4 separate regions of the Homo sapiens genome follow, and regions 1, 2 and 3 are each linked to region 4. The links come from fine-mapping of genetic effects on gene expression. A gene starts in region 4. Each other region holds a variant in brackets. All regions are shown on one strand. Distances are from middle to middle. Region 1 holds the start of LOC124902178 (a long non-coding RNA gene). Region 2 overlaps APBA1 (amyloid beta precursor protein binding family A member 1). Region 3 overlaps LOC105376076 (a long non-coding RNA gene). Region 4 holds the start of APBA1 (amyloid beta precursor protein binding family A member 1).

The links. PIP is the estimated chance that this variant, and not a neighbour inherited with it, causes the effect.
Region 1: its variant is the best candidate, but not a certain one, in a credible set for the expression of APBA1 in whole blood (TOPMed, PIP 0.86).
Region 2: its variant is the best candidate, but not a certain one, in a credible set for the expression of APBA1 in nasal epithelium (TOPMed, PIP 0.74).
Region 3: its variant is the best candidate, but not a certain one, in a credible set for the expression of APBA1 in whole blood (TOPMed, PIP 0.56).

What each region holds. Positions count from the first base shown.
Region 1 is chr9:69,473,306-69,478,358 of GRCh38, reverse strand. APBA1 (amyloid beta precursor protein binding family A member 1) reads left to right here. Exons shown (of 13, transcript NM_001163.4): 3 at 2,216-2,311. LOC124902178 (a long non-coding RNA gene) reads right to left here and starts at 4,096. Exons shown (of 2, transcript XR_007061570.1): 1 at 4,007-4,096. The variant T/C (reference allele first, on the strand shown) is at 2,795.
Region 2 is chr9:69,497,581-69,502,633 of GRCh38, reverse strand. All of the region lies in intron 2 of APBA1 (amyloid beta precursor protein binding family A member 1), which reads left to right. Among named protein-coding and RNA genes, the nearest start is that of APBA1, 170 kb to the left of the region's middle. The variant G/A (reference allele first, on the strand shown) is at 2,052.
Region 3 is chr9:69,770,353-69,775,405 of GRCh38, reverse strand. All of the region lies in intron 1 of LOC105376076 (a long non-coding RNA gene), which reads right to left. Among named protein-coding and RNA genes, the nearest start is that of PTAR1, 13 kb to the right of the region's middle. The variant TG/G (reference allele first, on the strand shown) is at 2,244.
Region 4 is chr9:69,669,960-69,674,959 of GRCh38, reverse strand. It overlaps APBA1 (amyloid beta precursor protein binding family A member 1), which reads left to right and starts at 2,589. Exons shown (of 13, transcript NM_001163.4): 1 at 2,589-2,807. RefSeq lists silencers at 2,512-2,561, 2,742-2,821.

The DNA of each region.
Region 1 (5,053 bases), 200 kb after region 4:
CTTCCAGTTGATCGCATCGGCTCCTGAGGCTTCTGCATTCTTCACGTAGTTCTCGAGCCTTGGTTTTCAGCTCCATCAGCTCCTTTAAGCACTTCTCTGTATTGGTTATTCTAGTTATACATTCTTCTAAATTTTTTTCAAAGTTTTCAACTTCCTTGCCTTTGGTTTGAATGTCCTCCCGTAGCTCAGAGTAATTTGATCGTCTGAAGCCTTCTTCTCTCAGCTCGTCAAAGTCATTCTCCATCCAGCTTTGTTCTGTTGCTGGTGAGGAACTGCGTTCCTTTGGAGGAGGAGAGGCGCTCTGCGTTTTAGAGTTTCCAGTTTTTCTGTTCTGTTTTTTCCCCATCTTTGTGGTTTTATCTACTTTTGGTCTTTGATGATGGTAATGTACAGATGGGTTTTTGGTGTGGATGTCCTTTCTGTTTGTTAGTTTTCCTTCTAACAGACAGGACCCTCAGCTGCAGGTCTGTTGGAATACCCTGCCGTGTGAGGTGTCAGTGTGCCCCTGCTGGGGGGTGCCTCCCAGTTAGGCTGCTCGGGGGTCAGGGGTCAGGGACCCACTTGAGGAGGCAGTCTGCCCGTTCTCAGATCTCCAGCTGCGTGCTGGGAGAACCACTGCTCTCTTCAAAGCTGTCAGACAGGGACATTTAAGTCTGCAGAGGCTACTGCTGCCTTTTGTTTGTCTGTGCCCTGCCCCCAGAGGTGGAGCCTACAGAGGCAGGCAGGCCTCCTTGAGCTGTGGTGGGCTCCACCCAGTTCGAGCTTCCAGGCTGCTTTGTTTACCTAAGCAAGCCCGGGCAATGGCGGGCGCCCCTCCCCGAGCCTCGCTGCTGCCTTGCAGTTTGATCTCAGACTGCTGTGCTAGCAATCAGTGAGACTCCGTGGGCGTAGGACCCTCTGAGCCAGGTGCAGGATATAATCTCGTGGTGCGCGGTTTTTTAAGCCGGTCCGAAAAGCGCAATATTCGGGTGGGAGTGACCCGATTTTCCAGGTGCGTCCGTCACCCCTTTCTTTGACTCAGAAAGGGAACTCCCTGACCCCTTGCACTTCCCAAGTGAGGAAATGCCTCGCCCTGCTTCGGCTGGCGCACGGTGCGCGCACCCACTGACCTGCGCCCACTGTCTGGCACTCCCTAGTGAGATGAACCCAGTACCTCAGATGGAAATGCAGAAATCACCCATCTTCTGTGTCGCTCACGCTGGGAGCTGTAGACTGGAGCTGTTCCTATTCGGCCATCTTGGCTCCGCCGCCCCCTGCTGTGGAATTCTTAAGCATCTCTGTGGCTCACCTGAGGATTCCTTTCATCTCCCAAGATTTCAGAAGCACACAACAATGTTTGGCTATAGGCTGGGGAGTGTTTTCCGGGTCTGTATCAGTCCCATCCCTGTGCTTGCTTGTTTTATTTGCCCATCCATTCAGAAGATGTTTATGGAGCACCTTCTGTGTACACTGACCTGGGAGCTTCCTATACACGTCTAGCAGGGCCTGCCTGCACAGGGAGCTGGGGTCCCATCAGCCCAGGCAATACCACACCCAACCAGGCCATTCTCCCTGAGCCTATTTTTCTAAGCCTTATTTTCCGATACACCGTTTGACAAAGGATTTTTGAACTGTTCTAAGAGCATCCAGGGTAGTGTTTGGATGTTAAAATGCTGAAATGTCTCTGAATTTTCAATAGCCTGTAGACTAAATCAGACAAAATATTTGAAATCTGAATTGACTAGGAAAATACAGGTGGTATGGTTTCTAGCCATCAAAATCAGGCCCAGCTACCTCTTTAAAAATGTGTGTTTTAATTTTTACTTTTTCATTTGGGGCAGGCAATTTTATAAGACATTCGGTACCCTAAATATTTGGCTTCATCAGTAAGAAAAAAATGTTTTAAACATGTTTGTGTAATATCCTTAGCTCAATTCATTTAGGATTTTTTAATTTCAACCTTTTCTGTATTTTCTTTCAACATTTGGCCTAAGGGGAAAAACGGCCCATAGCTATGAAAGCTCCTTTGAAAGCATGGCAGGACTTGAAAAAGAAAGCTTGAAAACCACAAGTGTTTTATGTACAGTTGGCAGCTCCTTTTTAAGAGGTTTTCTCCCCACTGCAGTGTCTGTTCGATTGTGTTCTGCTTTGCTTCTCTCTCCCGGCCCCTTTCCCCCAGCCAAGTGTCTGCCGAGTCTCTCAAGTTCTCACTGTGTTTCCTCTTGCTGTGTTCTAGTCTCCGTCTCCTGGCAGCTCCTCCCCCTTGGGTGCAGAGTCATCAAGCACATCTCTTCACCCCAGTGACCCTGTGGAAGCGTCCACTAATAAAGAGGTAGGGTGCTGTTTTGTTACCAAAGCCATTGGGCCATTTTGCTTTACTCTAATACTGTTCTGTGCTTCCTAATACAGCATCCTACAGCGCTCCTGACCCACATTACCCTGGTGAGAACAATCCTGATTTCTCCTCTCCAGTGTGCAGTTCACCTGTTAAAGCCATGTCATCCAGTTTGATAGCCACTGGCTGCAGGTGCCTAATTAATGAATAAAATGAAAAGTTTATTTCCTCAAGCACAGTAGCCACATTTCAAGTGCTCGGACAGGGTGGATTACAGAGCATTTGCATCACTGCAGGAAATTCTGTTGAACAGCACTTGACCTCAGACACCAAAAACTCGACGTACAGCATCTTTCCTCCTGGCGTTACATGCCTGCTGATGCCATGGGCTTGCAGTTGCTGTGTGCTTTGGGAAATGTGTTAGTTTCTTAAATACCCTTTATTTCAGGCCCAAATGAGATATCTTTCGTAAGAATAGAG[T/C]GGCCATACATTCCCAGTTTACCTAGGGTGTGGTTCCAGTTCACACCTGTTGTCCAGGCAGCCCATCTTATGAGCGCCCTTCTCTCTTGCTGGTGCAGTGCCGCCTGCGAGAACTTTCCACGGTGCTGGAAATGTTCCACTTCTGCTCTGTCCACTATGGTAGTCATTAGCCTCATGTGCCTGTCAAACCCTGGAAATGTGGCCAGTGTAACTGAGGAACTGAAGTTTTCATTTTATCCCATTTTAATTAACTTAAATAGCCACGTGTGGCTGCAGACTGCCAGACAGTGCAGCTCTAAAGTATCCCTTTTGGACAACAAATTCTGTGGTCGCCTTGCTTATGTGGAGCATTTCAGTGAGAAGATGCTGCTTTCTCCCATTGAGGTGTCTGGGTCTGAGAAAGGGCAGCCCCAGAGGGGAGACACTGCCTTCCCCCGTACCCAGGGTCCTTTTACACCTAGTGAACTGCCACCCACACCTGCTAATGAGCCAACATCAGGTAAATGTTGGTCTGCGCCATAATCTGTGTGTGGGCTCAGCTCACTCTAAATATAGCTGCTCTCTCATCAACACTGAGGAGATGTGTTAAAGAGGTAAACCACATGATGAACGATGGTTTCCTTTTCCCTCATTTTGCTGATAATTTTATGTTAAATGCAATGAAAAAGAAATCTCTGTTTAAACTGAGTGGCAGATCGCTTTTAAAGGGAGTCTTAGTTAAAATTTACCCTTAAGGCACCCTTGAATACCATATATTTGCCATTAAATATTTACACAAAGGAAAAGTATTTTTTATTAATCTGTTCATATTAAACCAAACAAACAAACATAGACCTTCTCTGAAATGACACCAACATTAGAATTTAGACTAGAAATATACTTTGGTCTCCTCTGGTCTTGAGCCTCAGACACTTGGCCATTGGGAGCACAAGTGACAAGGGCACAGTTTCTGCTGTTCCCACCGTTCCACAGTTTGCTTCATTCTTATATCACATGGTTGGGTGAGAACAAATAGTAAGAAGAAAAGAAGGACAGGTGCCCTGATGATAACAGTCATGAGCACTATCGTTTCTTGAGCATTGACAATGTTCCAGGAACTGGGCTGAGAAAAATCACAGATAGTGTCTCATTTAATTCTTAAAATAATTCTGTGAGGTAGGTATCACTGTCCTCATTTGCTGGTTGAAAAAGCTAAGAGGTTGAATAACTTACCTGAGATTGTAGAGCTCACAAGTGGTCAGCCAGGATTCAAATCCAGAACTCATGGGAACCCGTGCTCTTAACTGCCAAGATCTGCCACTGCTGGAGTAGAAAGTGTTTGCAGGTCACAGACTACATGGACAAGGTACCTTGTCTGTCATTGTTCCAGTTGTCCAATTGTGCCTCCAAGTTCTGCACGAGTCGATTTGTGTGACCCCCAAACCCAAACCCCAAAGATCTTAGCCTTTAGCTTTTTAAATGCAACTTTATTTATTTATTCTTGAAAGTTAAGGATCAACTGATGTTCATCTCAGTCCACATGTGAAATAAAGGGCTAACCAGACATCTAAATATTCAGCATTTGATTATGCATTAGATATAATAAGGCAAATTTGTTAGTTTCTCAGTTCCTACAAGACTTGGCTCATGTTTCTATATATCCTTAGAAATGATGATGAAAATCCTATTTGTGTGTAATAATTAGAGATTCTTTCATTTCACAAAACTCTTTTTAAAAAAATTTACTACCCCAGAGACTAAGAAAGCTAGTCATGAGCTCATGCATAGAGAATAAGTGAATGTACCAAATGCCCTCTGTTGCAGCTTTTTTTTTAAAGATGGTAAACTTTATTTTGCCAAATTATTTTTTTCAAACTTATCTTTTTTTTAATTTTTTTAATTATACTTCAAGTTTTAGGGTACATGTGCACAACATGCAGGTTAGTTACATACGTATACATGTGCCATGTTGGTGTAGCTCTTAATAAAACTGCAGCTTTTAGAGCTATAGACCAAAGTAATTCTTTTGTAGCTTCTGCTAAAATCTGGACACTGTCTAGCATTCAGAAAAGTATCAAAATAGAGCAAGAAAATGTGAATTGACTTCTTAGATATACCTGGAGGCTAAGCAATTCTGATTAAACAAACTCTCATTACCCCAGGCTATAGTTACTTGGGACAAGGGTAGGGAAATGGTTGGGAAATAATAACTTAAAAGTTTTAGGCCCCTATGAAGATGCTAGCTTCCATCTGCATACCATGAAGTTATGAGGGTTTTTT
Region 2 (5,053 bases), 170 kb after region 4:
TCATTTCTGTCAGTGGAGAATAATGCTCTAGGAGACTTTAGTTGTCAATAACAACAACAAAATGAGACGTTTTTCTATGAACTGTGAGAACCTAATGCAACCGGAGTAATTTTTTTAAAGATTTAATGATTTTACTGGTACACCTTTAAAATGAAAAGGCTTCACCCTGAAATCCCATTTGAAGAACAAATGATTCATTTCAATCAAGGAAAAAAAAACAAAAAGAGATGGGAGAATGTTTGCTTTGATCTCACCACCTGGATTGGAAGTATTGCCTCCAATTATTTTAGCTTGTCTTTAGAGTTTCACCTGTCGGTTCAGCTCTAGGCAAGATGTGTTGCCTGGCAGGTGTCTCCCCCACTGACATCAGACCATCACCATCTAGAAATCACCAGAGCAAAACTTGTCTGGTGATCTGCACACCAGAAGGCACGTTTTCCAGTTACTGTGTGTTCTGTGGAATAAAAGAAACTGATGGAGAAGATTGATCTTTTTTAACCCTCTGGGCTCCAATTTTTTTCACTTTGCCTGACCCCTCTCCCAAGAGGAATCTTTCTCAACTTTTTGATGGATTGTCTCACCAGACAGTATATATGTGAAACTGTGCCAAGAAGTGATGGGACAAACAACAGGGAAATAAATGGACGATTTAGCTAGAGAGAATTTTGTTGTCAGTTGCTAGTCAGAGTTGCAGCTCATAGGCCACAGTTCGGGTGTCTGACATGCTTGCTGAATAAGTGTATGCTCAATAAACTGCCCAGTAGTCTTTAGAAAAATTGTGTCCTCTGCCCCGACTATGCACTCTTTAGAGACAATCTCACTCTGTGACCGAGGCTAGAGTGCAAGGATACAATCCTAGCTCACTGCAGCCTCACACTCCTGGGCTCAAGGAATCCTCCTGCCTCAACCTACCTACTAGCTAGGGCTACAGGTGCATACCATCATGCCCAGCTAGTGTGTGTGTGTGTGTGTGTGTGTGTGTGTGTGTGTGTGTGTGTGTGTGTTTTGTAGAGACAGAGTCTTGTTATGTTGCCCAGGCTGGTCTCAAACTCCTGGCCTCAAGCATTGGCCTCTCAAAGTGTCATATTACAGGCATGAGCCACCATGCCCAGCCACTCATATTTTCTGTGATACGTGTACTGGGGCCATATTGGAGAAGAAGGGAAGGTGCTGGGAGAGGAACAGATATATCATAGATAATTGAATTTCATATGTAACCCAGTTGTATCCTGGAGCCCATGTTGTCCTGGGAGTTATGAAATGTGATTTGAGTACAAACATGATCATCTTTAAAATGAAAAATACTTCCATTACAAGTGTAACTGGCAACATGTTCTGAGTCCAAAAATGTAGTTTCTCAGTCCACTTGTTTTGAAACACAGTCTTCGCTGACTGCTTTCTTAAGAGCGGCGATAAGAGAGGAGGATTTCTGTTTAGACACAGGCCACTTCACTCCCCTGAAGAGTTCCACTTGCAGTTTTTCTCCTGTTGTTTCTCATATTGAGACAACAGACATTCAGCTTGACATGCCTAGCTGACCTCTTGGTCAGACCCTACCCGTGGGACACCAAAAAGTGAGTAAACAAGTCTGGTAATGGATTGAAGGAGAATTGGAGTCAGTCTGAACATTTTGGCCCCAGTTTACCCGGAAGGAATAGCTGAAAATAGACTTTTTGTGACCTGGGAGAATTATGAAATGCGATTTGGCTATAAATGTGATCATCTTTAAAATGAAAAATGCTAAATGTCTTTATGCTTCTCTGGACTGGCCTCTACCCCATGCTTGTAATCATGCGGATCTCGCCTCTATCCAGGTCACATTCCGATTAGATAAAGTCCGGGCTTCGCTCTTTAAACATAGATTTCAAGGCCCCAGACTTCTTGATTAGAGCCTCTGGAGGTTGGGTCTTGGCACGGGTGTTAATAAGATTCAGTCAAAATTGGTAAGTGCTAGCTTAAGCTGTGGACCAGAGTTTAACACTCAACTCTTTAGGATCTCATTTTCCGCTTTTCTTGCGTGAGTTAACCTGTTGCCTCTGTAATTCACTGTC[G/A]GTGTCTCATCGTTCTCCTGTATCTCTCTCAGAGCAAGTCACACAGATGCGCTGCTCAGAGTGTCCATCGTATGTAAATATTTGGCTCACAGTCGATCTGCTGCAGTTACCTTGAGTTTGTCACCTGCTTTCCTCCCAGCCTTCAGTTTCCTCATCAGTAAAATGAGTTAATCAGGTTTATGTCCCAGGGAAGCTGTGAGAGAAAATGGTTTTGCAGATATCGAGTCCTATATGGAAATGTGAAACAAGAATCACAAGTTTGTTGTGCCAGTTACATTTGGAAGTCAAAGCTCACTTAACATTTGGGGTTGGTTACTGGCGATCTGAATTAGGGGGCTGGCCTTTAGTAGCCCTTCCTCACCCTCTCTAGGCTAGTGTTTCCTTTCTGCTGTCCTCAGCATTCAGATCCCCCACTGGGCTGCCCATCCTGGTCAGGCACTCAGGCGACCCTAGTTCTCAGCTTCCACCTTAAGCAGCATTATACCGTCAGCCTTTCCTTCCAGGGTTGGTCTGATTAAATCAAACTAAACTGCTAATTAGTGATAATGGCAACATGCACCGCCCCTCCAGATAACATTTACCTTTTATTGGCATTCTACTCCTGATTTCAGAGACCACTGGAGAAAGTATTTTGAAGCAGGAAACCATTTCAGCACTAATGCTTCTTAATCAGAAACCAGCCACTCTCCTGCTGAGATGGAGGTATTGTCAAAATCCTGAGAAGTAAGGGCTTGGTGTGAACTCTTGCCCTGATCATGTGTACTTTTACATCCACTTTTTTTTTTTAATTTCAAGAAAAATGTTGCAGTGAGGGTGTAGGAGCTTCATGGCTTCATCTGGGGCCTTGATTGCCTTGATGTTACCCTCTCCCTGCCCTGAATTCAGCATGCCACCGACATGGATTTTTTTTTTTTTTGGACCGTTGCTAGGAAACTACTGACCAAGGTCAAGTGCACATGCTAATTCATTAAGACTTGTTAGAGCCTCTTATCCTGTCGACCTTGCTGTTGTGTTGTCAAGCTTACAAGGGCGAGCGAAAAGAACTGTCTTGCTGCCAAAGGATGCCATTTTTTGTGAAGGATTCTTGTTAAGGTATTCTGAACTGAGAGATTTCCTCTTGCTGATTACACCTTGCAGAGTTCTGAACAGACAAAATTTTTCCAGGATCCGGTTAGCAAGGGATGAAGTTGAAATGGGATCTGAAATCAAGTAGACAGAATTTAGGATTAATATGTGTTCAGTTGGAACCCTATTTCCCCAAGTGGATCAATTCTTGGCTGGAATGTGATGTATTCCTAGGGAAGGGAAGAAGGGTGGTTCTAGGATAGTTAGCCCCAGTCTGTCTCCATTTGTGCTGTTAAGAGGAAGAAAACTCCAGGCATCCTTATCTCCGATTTTCCCTTACCTGCTGCAGAAGAGTATACATTCCAGTGTTGGCTCTAAAACCAACTTTGTTTTCTTATATGATCCAGACTGTTTAGAAAAATGGGGCTGGCATACCCTTTAAGTCAACATCCCAGAAGCTTATTCAGAAGCATAACCTTAGAACCAAAGGACCCGCTGCTGGGACAGCAGAAATGGAACCCAGTGTGTTTTCCAGGCAGACCTCAGAAAAGGATGGGAAACTTCTTACACAAGCAAATGGTATCAGAGGTATAAATGTGTTCTCAACCGTCTGCCATGCAAAGTGATTAAGCTGAGCTGTCATAGCTGTTTCTCTGCTGATACCTTTGTGTTTCATTGAACACTAGCTACATAAAGGAATAAGAAATATGGCCTCAAAGCTATGCTGTTCCTTATTTTGCCAGTGAACTACAGAGAGTTTGTGACTACTGTTCTAGGTCAAAAGTTGAAAGTGCATCTTACAATTTATCATCCACTCATTCAATAAACGTTGTTAGATCCTTCTATAGATCACGCACTGTGCAAGACCCCAGGGATACAGCAATGACAGATAGAGGCTCTGACTGACACAGACAGGCTCTGCTGGTGCAGAGTGTACAATCTAAGCTAGTCCTTTGTCAAGCCCCAAGCGAGACCTTCAAGCCTCCTCTGCTCTTAAGCCTTTCATCTGAATCCTTATTTAGTGTCTTAATTATCTATTGCTGTGTAACAAATTTCCCCAAAATTTAGTGGCATAAAACAACCTTCCTTGACTATCTCACAGTTTCTCTCCATTAGGGTCTCTTGGAGGCTGCCATCAGGGGGTCAGGTGGCCTGCAGTCATCTCAAGCTCACATGCTTGTGGGGCAGGACTCAGCTTCCCATGGGCATTGATGCTGAGGGCCTCAGTTCCCAGTTGACTGTTGGCCAGAGGTGTCCTCAGTTCTCTGCTACATGGGCTGTCTGACACTTGGCATCTTGCTTCATAAAGTATGCAGGATAAGAAGGTCATGGAGTCTGGTAGCAAGATGGAAGTCATGGTTTTTTGTAACCCAGTCACAGGGTGATATCCTATCACCTTTGCTGTATTTTATTGCTTAGAGTAAGTCACTCAGCCGTGCTCCCTCCCCAGGGAGGAGATTACCCAAGAGGCTGAATACCAGGAGGTGGAGATGATTGGGAGCCATCTGAGAACTCTGCCTTCCACATTTGGTATCTGTCATCGTTCCATGCCAGCAAAGAGCTACTGGGCTTCAAATTTAGGGCAGAGCAGCTGCTGGCCTTGTCCTCTCCCACTGACCTTGTCAACCATTCCGAACTCCTGGGCTGCATTTGTTTTGTTGTCTGGCTGAGATGAGGCAGATTTGCAGATCCCGAAGTGACCGATGGACGATGAAACCAAAGTGGCGTAAAAGGGAAGGTGTGTGAGAGCTAGCACAGAGATGGTGCAGGGGGCTATGTCAGAAAAAGCTGGGACTAGGGCAGGCTGTGGAAATGGAAAAGAGGAGGTGTTGTCCTGAAGAAAGAGCAGGTCCATGGTGGACTGCTCAGAAGGAGGAGTTTAACTTTATCCCCAAGGGACTGCCATTGTCAAAAGAATTTGCTGTAAAGACCCTTTC
Region 3 (5,053 bases), 100 kb before region 4:
GCCACAGATTCTATCTAAGAAGTTCTTAGGAAAACCTAAAGATAACAAGGAAGAAAGATACAAGTACACCTGAGGAAACTGAATCCACTGGCGCTTACGGTTTCAGCAAACATTAAACACAGCCCAGCTTCTGGCCACATTACCATTATAACTTTTCTATTATCCCATACATTATACGAAGTTTTTAGCAAAAGATTACAAGGCAAGCTAAAGGGCAAGAAAAAGCAGTCTGAAGAGACAAAGCAAGAACCTTCATCAAAGCTACGTCCAGGGGAAGGGGAGAGTGGAGGAGAAGAATAATGAAAATATTCTGGCTGGGTGCAGTGGCTTAAGCCTGTAATTCCAGAACTTTGGGAGGCTGAGGCGGGTGAATCACCTGAGGTCAGGAGTTCGAGAACAGCCTGGCCAACATGGTGAAACCCCGTCTCTACTAAAAATACAAAAATTAGCCAGGCGTGTTGGCAGGCGCCTGTAGTCCCAGCTACTCGGGAGGCTGAGGCAAGAAGAATTGCTCAAACTCGGGAGGCAGAGGTTGCAGTGAGCCAAAATCGCCCTGCTGCACCCTAGCCTGGGTGACAGACGGTGAATCTGTCTCAGGAAAAAAAAAGAAAAAGAAAAAAAGAAAACAAAATATTCTGGAATTAGTGGTAATGGTTGTATAATCTTGTTAATACACTAAAAACCACTAAATTACATGCTTCAAAGGGTGAATTTTATGTTTTGGGACTATCTCAATTTAAAAAATAATTTTAAAAAGACTTACATAATTATTTATAACTTTTTACAAAATGAAGGTTTTCCTATATTCTCCACGCTCACACAATTGGTGAAAAAATAACATCGAATTAGAGAATAAAATATATCTACGGTAATTGTGAAAATTGATGACAAATTTTAAGAATTATGATTCTCATTACATTAATTCTTTGCTACTCATAACATGAACCATAAAAAAGTAAATACATTGTCTCTTTTTTTCATTCAATACATATATACTTAATATCTGCCTCATATAAGGAACTGTACCATGTTGTTGGGTTACAAAAATGAATCTGACAATGACTTCAACTTAGAAAAAGATATTAGAGATTTACAAAAATAACTGTAAAACAAGGTCATATATGAAAAGTGCCAAACAAAGGCTATAAAAGTACAGTGGAGTCCAAGATTATAGGAAAGCATTTCTTTTTTCTTTTTTTTTTTTCATTGTTATACTTTTTAAGTTCTGGAATATATGTGCAGAACGTGCAGGTTTGTTACATAGGTATACATGTGCCATGGTGGATTGCTGCACCGATGAACCTATCATCTGCATTAGGTATTTCTCCTTATGCTATCCCTCTCCTTACCCTCCACACCACGACAGGCCCTGGTGTGTGATGTTCACCTCCCTGTGCCCATATGTTCTCATTGTTCAACTCTCAATTATGAATGAGAATCAATGGTGTTTGGTTTTTTGTTCCTGTGTTAGTTTGCTTAGAATAATGGTTTCCAGCTTCATCCATGTCCCTGCAAAGGACATGAACACATTTTTTTTTATGGCTGCATAGTATTCCATGGTGTGTATGTGCCATATTTTCTTTATCCATGGTGTATATGTGCTACATTTTCTTTATCCAGTCTATTGTTGATGGGCATTAGGGTTGGTTCCAAGTCTTTGCTATTGTGAATAGTGCTGAAATAAACATATGTGTGCATGTATCTTTATAGTAGAATGATTGATAAACCTTTGGGTACATACCCAGTAATGGGATTGTTGGGTCTATTTCTGGTTCTAGATCCTTGAGGAATCACCACACTGTCTTCCATAATGGTTGAACTAATTTACACTCCCACCAATAGTGTAAAAGCATTCCTATTTCTAGGAGAGCATTTCGAACTGAGGTGATTAATGAAGACTTCATGGGAAAGGTGGCAATGGAATTGGGTCTTTGTTTGTTCAGCTGACTCAGCACTACATTTGCAGTGCTTACTATATTCAGGAACTGTACCAGGTACCAGGGAAACAACAATAAAGATGAAATGGATTATCTCATTTTGTTATGTGATAAAACCCAGGAGTGTAGAAGCATATATATGTGTGTGTGTGTGTGTGTGTGCATTTATATATTTTTGTATAACTAAAACAATGTATAAGTTAATAAGAACACTCTTGAAGAATGAGCGGATTTCAACAAAGAAGCAAAAATGCTTTCAATGGCTCTAACTCTTCAGAATTTTTTATTTTTTATTTTTTATTTTTT[TG/G]AGACAGAGTCTTGCTCTGTCGCCCAGGCTGGAGTGCAGTGGTGCAATCTTGGCTCACTGCAACCTCTGCCTCCCGGGTTCAAGCGATTCTCCTGCCTGAGCCTCCCAAGTAGCTGGGATTACAAACACATGCCACCACAGCCAGCTAATTTTTGTATTTTTAGTAGAGATGTGGTTTCACAATGTTGGCCAGGCTGGTCTTGAACTCCTGACCTAGTGATCCGCCCACCTTGGCACTGCCAAAATATGGCCTCAAGGTTCCTCATGATTAGGCCTCTGACTAAATTCCAAGTGACTTCCTCTACTATTTCTTTATTACATTTATACATGTAGGTTATTCTACCCTTCCCTATTGTTTCCCATCCTTTCCTTTCATCCATCCATCCATTTAAGTACTCAGAGCCCACTATATTGCAATGCAACATACACAGTGGTACATAAAATAAACAGGAGAAATACAGTTCCAGCCCTTGTGAAATTTACACTCTGTAGATGGATAAAGATATGGAACTAATTAGACAACTGTTTAAATGCATTTGATATATAAAGGAGTCTATGAGAATATAATGAGGGCTTTTACTCCTTTATTACTTTGAGGGATTCAACTTTGTGTGCAGGAATTAGCCGGAAGTACCCTAGATATCTTGCTAGACACATGCATGACAGAGGATGGAAGATAAACCCTTAAAACATTCAAGGGCCTGCCACCTTAGTGAAGTTTCTAGGAGTCCATTAGTTGAGGCATGGCACATTTCTACCAAGGTGAAGGGCAAGTTGCTTCATCTTGCACACTCTACCACTGAGAAGGAGACACAAGGGCCACTTTGGATTCAAATTGTGACATATACCCTAGTTGAATGTTCTACTTTGAGTCACTTACTGAGTAACCCATAGATTTGAATGGATTCCAGAGCAACAGAAGCTTCTGTGGCAGCTCTAAGCTTCTACGCAAGCTGATCTTGGGCCACATGACTCAGCAGATTGAATGGTGCTGAAAGAGCACATTGAAATGTTCTAACAGTAGCAAATAAAAAATGCCATGGCAATACCCCTTGGGTTTTGGGGGAAAAGCCAACCCTTTTCGTTGATAAGCATTACACTTTTGAGAAACCGTTCTGGGGTTGCTATTGGGCCCCCAGGACTGAATATCTGACTAAGAAACACTAACTAGTCATGTGACATGAGCTTTCCATAGAGAGCTACGGTGTTACCTGACTCAGGACCACAATGCTGTAAATGAGATATACAAGATCAGGCTCAAACAGTTCCCAAAGACACAAGTTGCAAGAGTAAGTGACCCAGACACCTTCAGTATCAGTGGGTTCTGCATTCCTGGATTCAACTCAATGATCATCAAAAATATTCAGAAAAAATAAAAACATAATACAGATTAAAAGAATCAATATAGTATCACAACCATTTACATAGCATTTACATCTTATTAGGTATTTGAAGTAATCTAGAGATGATTTAAAGTATAGGCTGGGTGCGGTGGCTCACACCTATAATCCCAGCACTTGGGAAGCCAAGGAAGGTGGATCATCTGAGGTCAGGAGTTTGAGACCAGCTTGGCCAACATGGTGAAACCCCGTCTCTACTAAAAATACAAAAAATTAGCTGGAAGTAGTGGCACGTGCCTGTAATCCCAGCTACTTGGGAGGCTGAGGCAGGAGAATCGCTTGGATCCGGGAGGTGGAGGTTGTAGTGAGCCGATATTGCACCATTGCACTCCAGCCTGGGTAACAAGAGCGAAACTCCATCTCAAAAAAACCAAAAAACAAAATGAAAGCAAACTATATAGGAAGATGTGCATAGGATATATACAAAAATTGTGCCATTTTATATAAGCGACATGAGCATGTACAGATTTTGGTATCCACAGGGATCCTGGAAACAATCCTCCACAGATACTGAGGAATGACTGTACTTACTCCTATTGCATTGATATCTCTCCCTCGATCTACATATATGGCCTCATGGAGAATTCTCTATGACATGTGACTGAGGAAGAGAAAATTTGGGCCTCGTTTTGTTTCCAAACAGCTCTCCACAATATGTTGGTACTACCCAAAAGTGGATGGCTTTAGCATGACAGCCTCACTCAGAAATAGTCTTTAAAAACTGAGAAGGGAGATTCTCCAAGTAGGCAGAACTTCAGACTGTATATCTAGCAGTCCACTTAGACTAAAAAGAGACATGGCAGAGGAGTAGGTCAACATTGATTCATGGACAGTGGCTAACAGTTTGCTTAGATAGTCAGGGACTCTGGTATATTTATGTGACAGTTGATACTGAATGTCAACTTGATTGGATTGAAGGATACAAAGTATTGATCCCCTGGGTGTGTCTGTGAGGATGTTGCCAAAGGAGATTAATATTTGAGTCTGTGGGCTGGGAAAGGCAGACCCACCCTTAATCTGGTGGGCACAACCTAATCAGCTGCCAGCGAATATAAAGCAGGCAGGAAAAAAACTCAAAGGACAAGATGGGCCTAGCCTCCTAGTCTACATCTTTCTCCTGTGCTGGGTGCTTCTTGCCCTTGAACATCGGACTCCAAATTCTTCAGTTTTGGGACTCAGACTGGCTTCCTTTCTCCTCAGCTTCAGACAGCCTATTATGGGAGCTTGCGATCATGTAAGTTAATACTTAATAAACTCCTGTCTCTCTCAGTATATATATATATTAATAGGATATATTATATCCTATAGGATATAATATATCCTATTAGTTCTCTCCCTCTAAGAGAACCCTGACTAATACAATGTATGAACTAATTATACAGGAATTAGCAAAATTTGGTAATTGATGA
Region 4 (5,000 bases):
TAAGATTCCAGGATATTATTAAAGCAATAATGTAACCCTTATTCATGCATCTAAGAACCTAGTCTAACTGGAAAGGCAACACAAAAAGTAGAAAATAAGCAGAAAGATCTCTGAGATAGCAAACCAAATGGCAATAAGTGTATGCACAGAAAAGAGCCTCTCACTCAGAACCTATATTCTCTTATTTAACCTGAAATTCTAACAGGGTTCATTTCCTTCCTAAAACTGCAGTGGATTAAAAGTAACAAAACAGAAACTATTACAGAGAAGCACTCTGAAAGCCTCCTAGATGCGTACACAGGAGAGCAGAGGCAAGAACTAAAAACAATCAAAAGAGCAGTTAGTGCAAAAACAGAAAACCCTAAACACTCACTAAGTAGGATAAGCTCAGACTCTCTCCGCCCTGGATCCTGACCCTCCACGAATCAGTTCCTCACAAACCACCTCAGCCATCTTTCAGGAACGGAAATGTGATCCTGCTTGCCTGCTCCCAACTCTTGGCAACCCTTCATTGACTTTCCAGGCTCATAAGACAAAATCATTATTTAAAAACGGTCCACAAAGTCTGCCTGCCTCTCCAGTCTCATCTCACTTCGGCCCCACCTGCTTGGGCCTTTTCACATTTCCTTCCCTTTACCTGGAAGTGTCTCAATGCTGCCTCTCCTGGGGGATCTGAAATGTCATTTCCTTAGAAAGCCTTACCTAGTCCCAGAGTCCACATTAGGTTTTCCCGTGCACCTTAGCGCCTTTGCAGTTGAGAATTTATCACAGTTGCACTTAGTCTGATTGTTTTATTTGTTTGTTTGTTTTTTGAGACACCAAGGCTGGAGTGCAGTAGCGCGATCTCGGCTCACTGCAACCTCCGCCTCCCGGTTCAAGCATTCTCGTGCCTCAGCTTCCCGAGTAGCTAGGATTACAGGCGTGCACCAACACGCCCGGCTAATTTTTGTGTTTTTAGTAGAGACAGGGTTTCGCCATGTTGACCAGGCTGATCTCAAACTTTTGGCCTAAAGTGATCTGCTGGACTCAGCCTCCCAAAGTGCTGGGATTACAGGCGTGAGCCACCGCGCCTGGCCAGTCTGATAGTTGAATACCTATTTCCTTCAGCGTACTGTGAGCTCTGGTGGAAAAGGACCATGTCTGGCTCGTACATATGCCAAATAAGTATTCACCGGAAAAAATATGAGTAATGTCACAGGACAAGCAGACATCTTCCTAGTATATAATTTTAAATTTTACTAAAATCTTTTTGAGAAGGTAGCTATTGTTTTATTAAAGCAAAAAAAAATTACAAAGTACAATGCAAAATTCATATGAATTTTAAAGCTAAAACAAGACTTTCAGAATGCTTTAGGCTACACCCCCAGACTTCTCTAGAGACGTGCTTAAAATAATATGGAAACACGGTGTGGTAAAAGATCCATTTCCCAAGGGATCTGGATAACCAGCGCTTATCTTCATTTTACTGGAGAATACATGTGCGGAGAGGGCTTTGCAAACTACAAGGCTTTGTGCATTATAACATTATTATGGAAAAATCTGTGTTTCTAAGAGGGGGAATGATTTAGCTATTGCATTGCCAATTACAGGTGGGGCTGGCGCCAGAGCCCAGGCCTCCCGGGGCCTGTCTAGCCCACAGCTTTTCATTAATGCACAGCACTTGCCACCTGGTCCCTGCCGCAAAGGGTGGCCTCTCGAGTTAGGAGCCATATCTAGGGCGGATGGCCTGTGCTAGGCTCAAAGACACTTAAGTTCCGATCAACCAGAACTGAGGAGCGGGTAGGAAAACCAAGCCGAGCCTTCCTCGGCTTCACAATCCGCAGGCTCTCCGCTGTCCCCGGCGGGACTCGGCAGTTCCCCTGGAGGGCTGCAGCCCGGCTGTCTTCGCTCAGGCCCAAGCCCGCGCGGCTCTCCCCCTGGCGGAGAACTCGCAGGACTGCGACGCATTCCGGAGACGCCGTCAATCTCCGAATTTGAAGCGCAGGCGATATCTAAGGGGCCTGGGAAGCGGGAAAGCTCGGGAGTCACTCCGGAGAGAACACCCTGCAGGAGTCGACGCGGCTGCCTGGCTTCGTGGTCCTGCAGCGTGGCCCGTTGCTTCGCGCAGAGGTTGGCCACAGCTGCTGGCTAGGAAACTGGGGACCACCTGGGTTGCCACCGAGGAGGGTGGAGGCCCCCGTCAGTCCCCTCGGGGATGCAGCTGCATTTTCCCCTCCTTGCGTCCGGCCGGGAGCCAGAGGATGGGGCTGTGGAACCCATTCCGAAAGGCAGGGCGGGCCCTTCGGAACCCGGACGCGAGGGAAGGCGAGAGGCGCGGGTGTGCCGCACGCCCACCGGCGCCGGGGCAGGGGCGCTGCAGCCGGCGGCCCACGGAGGACATCAGCGGTGCCGCCGCCGCCGCCGCGGGCTCGCGGGCCGCGCGCGCACGCGAGTGGGCGAGGGAGGCAGGGGCGCTACTAGCAGGCGGCGTGCGCGCGCGCGCTCCCCCGCGCCCTCCCTCGCAGGCCCGCCCGGCCCCAGCGCGCGTCACGAGGGGCCAGCGAGCTAGCTGGAGGGCGGGAGGGAGGGTGGGGAAAGGGGGTGGGGCCGCGAGACCGGAGGGGTCCGAGCAGCGGCTGCGGAGCCGGAGCTGGGCGAGGGCGGCTGCGGTCCCGGCGGCGGCGGCGGCGGCGGCAGCTGCGGCGGGAGAAGATGGTGGCGCTGGAGGCAGCAGCGGCTGGAGCGGAGCTTTATTCCCAGGCTTGGCACCAGCGCTGTCACTAGCGCCGCCTGCTCCCGCGGGCCCGCGGACCCAGCTGTCAGGCAAGGTACCACAGCCAGGGAGGGGTGGGTGAGAAGGGGTGCCCGGCGCTGATGCGGCCCCCGACGGAGCCCGGGTCCTCGCCAAAGGGCGCCCCCGGACGCGAGAGGGGCTGCCTGGAACAATAGTGCGGAGGAGCGGAGGCAGCAGGCGACATCCAGGAGGCAGTGCCTGGAACCATCAGCTAGCGAGGCGGGGGAAGGCGGCGTTGCGAGCGAGACGCCTGGGGTCCGGTGCCCGCTGAGATGCCGGGCTTCGGGCGCAGCAGGCGGGCCTGATGACAGTCATGGCAGGAGTGAGTGTGTGAGAGTGTGTGTGTAAAAGGTACAGCAGAGGGGATGGGGTGGCGGACGGAGGTGTTGGGGGGTGACATTTCCAGGAATCCCCGCTAGGACCCCCTCATCTCTCGGCTGACTCTCCTGGAGAAAGAATGTGATGATGGAAACGGTGAGGTGGGCAGGATGCACTTGGTGTGTGAAGTGTGGAGGGAGGCAGTGGGATAGGGGCCGGTTTGTAAAATCCTGTATATGTGTGTGTACGCGTGTGGTTGCATCCACGTTCCCCAAACTGCGCCCCAAATCCAGAGATCTGCCGCTGCCCTTACTTGATGTCACCGGCTAAGACTGTGGGACAGTGTTTGTTATTTTGACCCTGCAACTCTGAGCACAGTGTCTGTTCTGCTCCTGCGTGTGGATGGCCCAGTGTAGGGATTCTCGCTTCCCCTTCCTCTGGCCTCATGACATGGGGATGTGGAAGTGAGCATGTTGCTTTGAGGCACATGGCAGGGAAATAGGATAACCGTTACACATTCTGGGCTTGCTAATGTACCTGGTTTTGAAGGGGCCTTCCATCCTGTGATACTACTTCTCTCCTTAGCACCTGTTCCATAAGGGTCTTGTACTCCCTGACTGTGCAGTTTCTATTGTTTTTCTCTTGTCTGACCAGAAGGAGAAGGATGTTGAATGATCAGATTCCTCTTCCTGTCCCCACAACTTTCAATGCTAGCTAGACCTTCTCCTTCCACATTTAAGCACTGAAAACCTTATGGCTAGAGGATGGATGGTCTTTGTGTTGGTTCTTTTAGAATGAACTCTGGAGGTGTATACGTATAGAGAGATGCGGTGGGGCGGGGGGCGGTCTTTTAAAAAGAAGAAAAATATCACACGGAGAAATGTTTGGTGCCCACTTGGTCAGCATCACACAGCCAGGGCGTTTTCCTCAGGAAACAGGATACTTTATTTCTACTGCTGGTGACATCCACTCTCCCAGCTGTCACAATAGCTAGGTGGTGCCGTGTATCATTTGGAAACTGAAATCTCCTGAGACCCACAGCGATGGGGTCCCAGGTCAGTAAAGTCCCTGCTTTCCTACCTGATAGAGCCCACTAGTAGGGAATTTGGAAAAATGTCAGGCTGGCAACAACTCACCCAGTGGGAACAAGGACACAGAAATGCATCCAGAGTCTATGGCTGTTTAATTGTCTCTGCGTGGTAAAGATAGGTGTGTGTAGGTAGGGTTGGGTAGAGGTAGGCAGGGAGATGGCATATTCATGTGTATCCAGGGCAGTGTGATTCCCCCTCACCTATGTTTCTCCTGCGGTATTCATAGGAATGAGTGCACTTTACACTTAATATCTCGACACTTCTTTATTAAAATGTTGTATGACTAGCTTAATCTGCTTAGGACATGTTTTAGTCATAACACCTTAAATTCTACTGCATTGTCGGAATCCAAACTGGCTGCCCGGTTCTCTTCGAAAAGCCCGTAGCAGTCATGGCTACACAAGTAAATATACAACATGTTGGCACCAGAGATTTATTTTTCTTTTTTAAAATTTTTGTTTTGCTTTCTTTTATGGGCAAAGATTGCATGATATCGTTGTGAAAATAATAAAACTAGGGCTATCCACATATGCTTTTTTTTCTTCCCATGTATCTTATTTAATGATATATAGACAAGGTGCTCTTGAAGCTGTCTATGTAAAGTAAATTTCCCCATGTTCTTCAAGTCAAGCCTTCTAAGATTTTAATGTGAGGTTGGTTGTTGGCTGTCATCCAAGATTTAAGGATAGATTTATAAAAATGAATTTTGAATCTTAGTTCTTTACTCTCTTATTTGTTATGCCAAATGTCTTTCTGAGAAAAGTACTTAGGGAATTTAAAAGCCATTCTAAGAGATTTTGGTTTAAAAAAAAGTCATC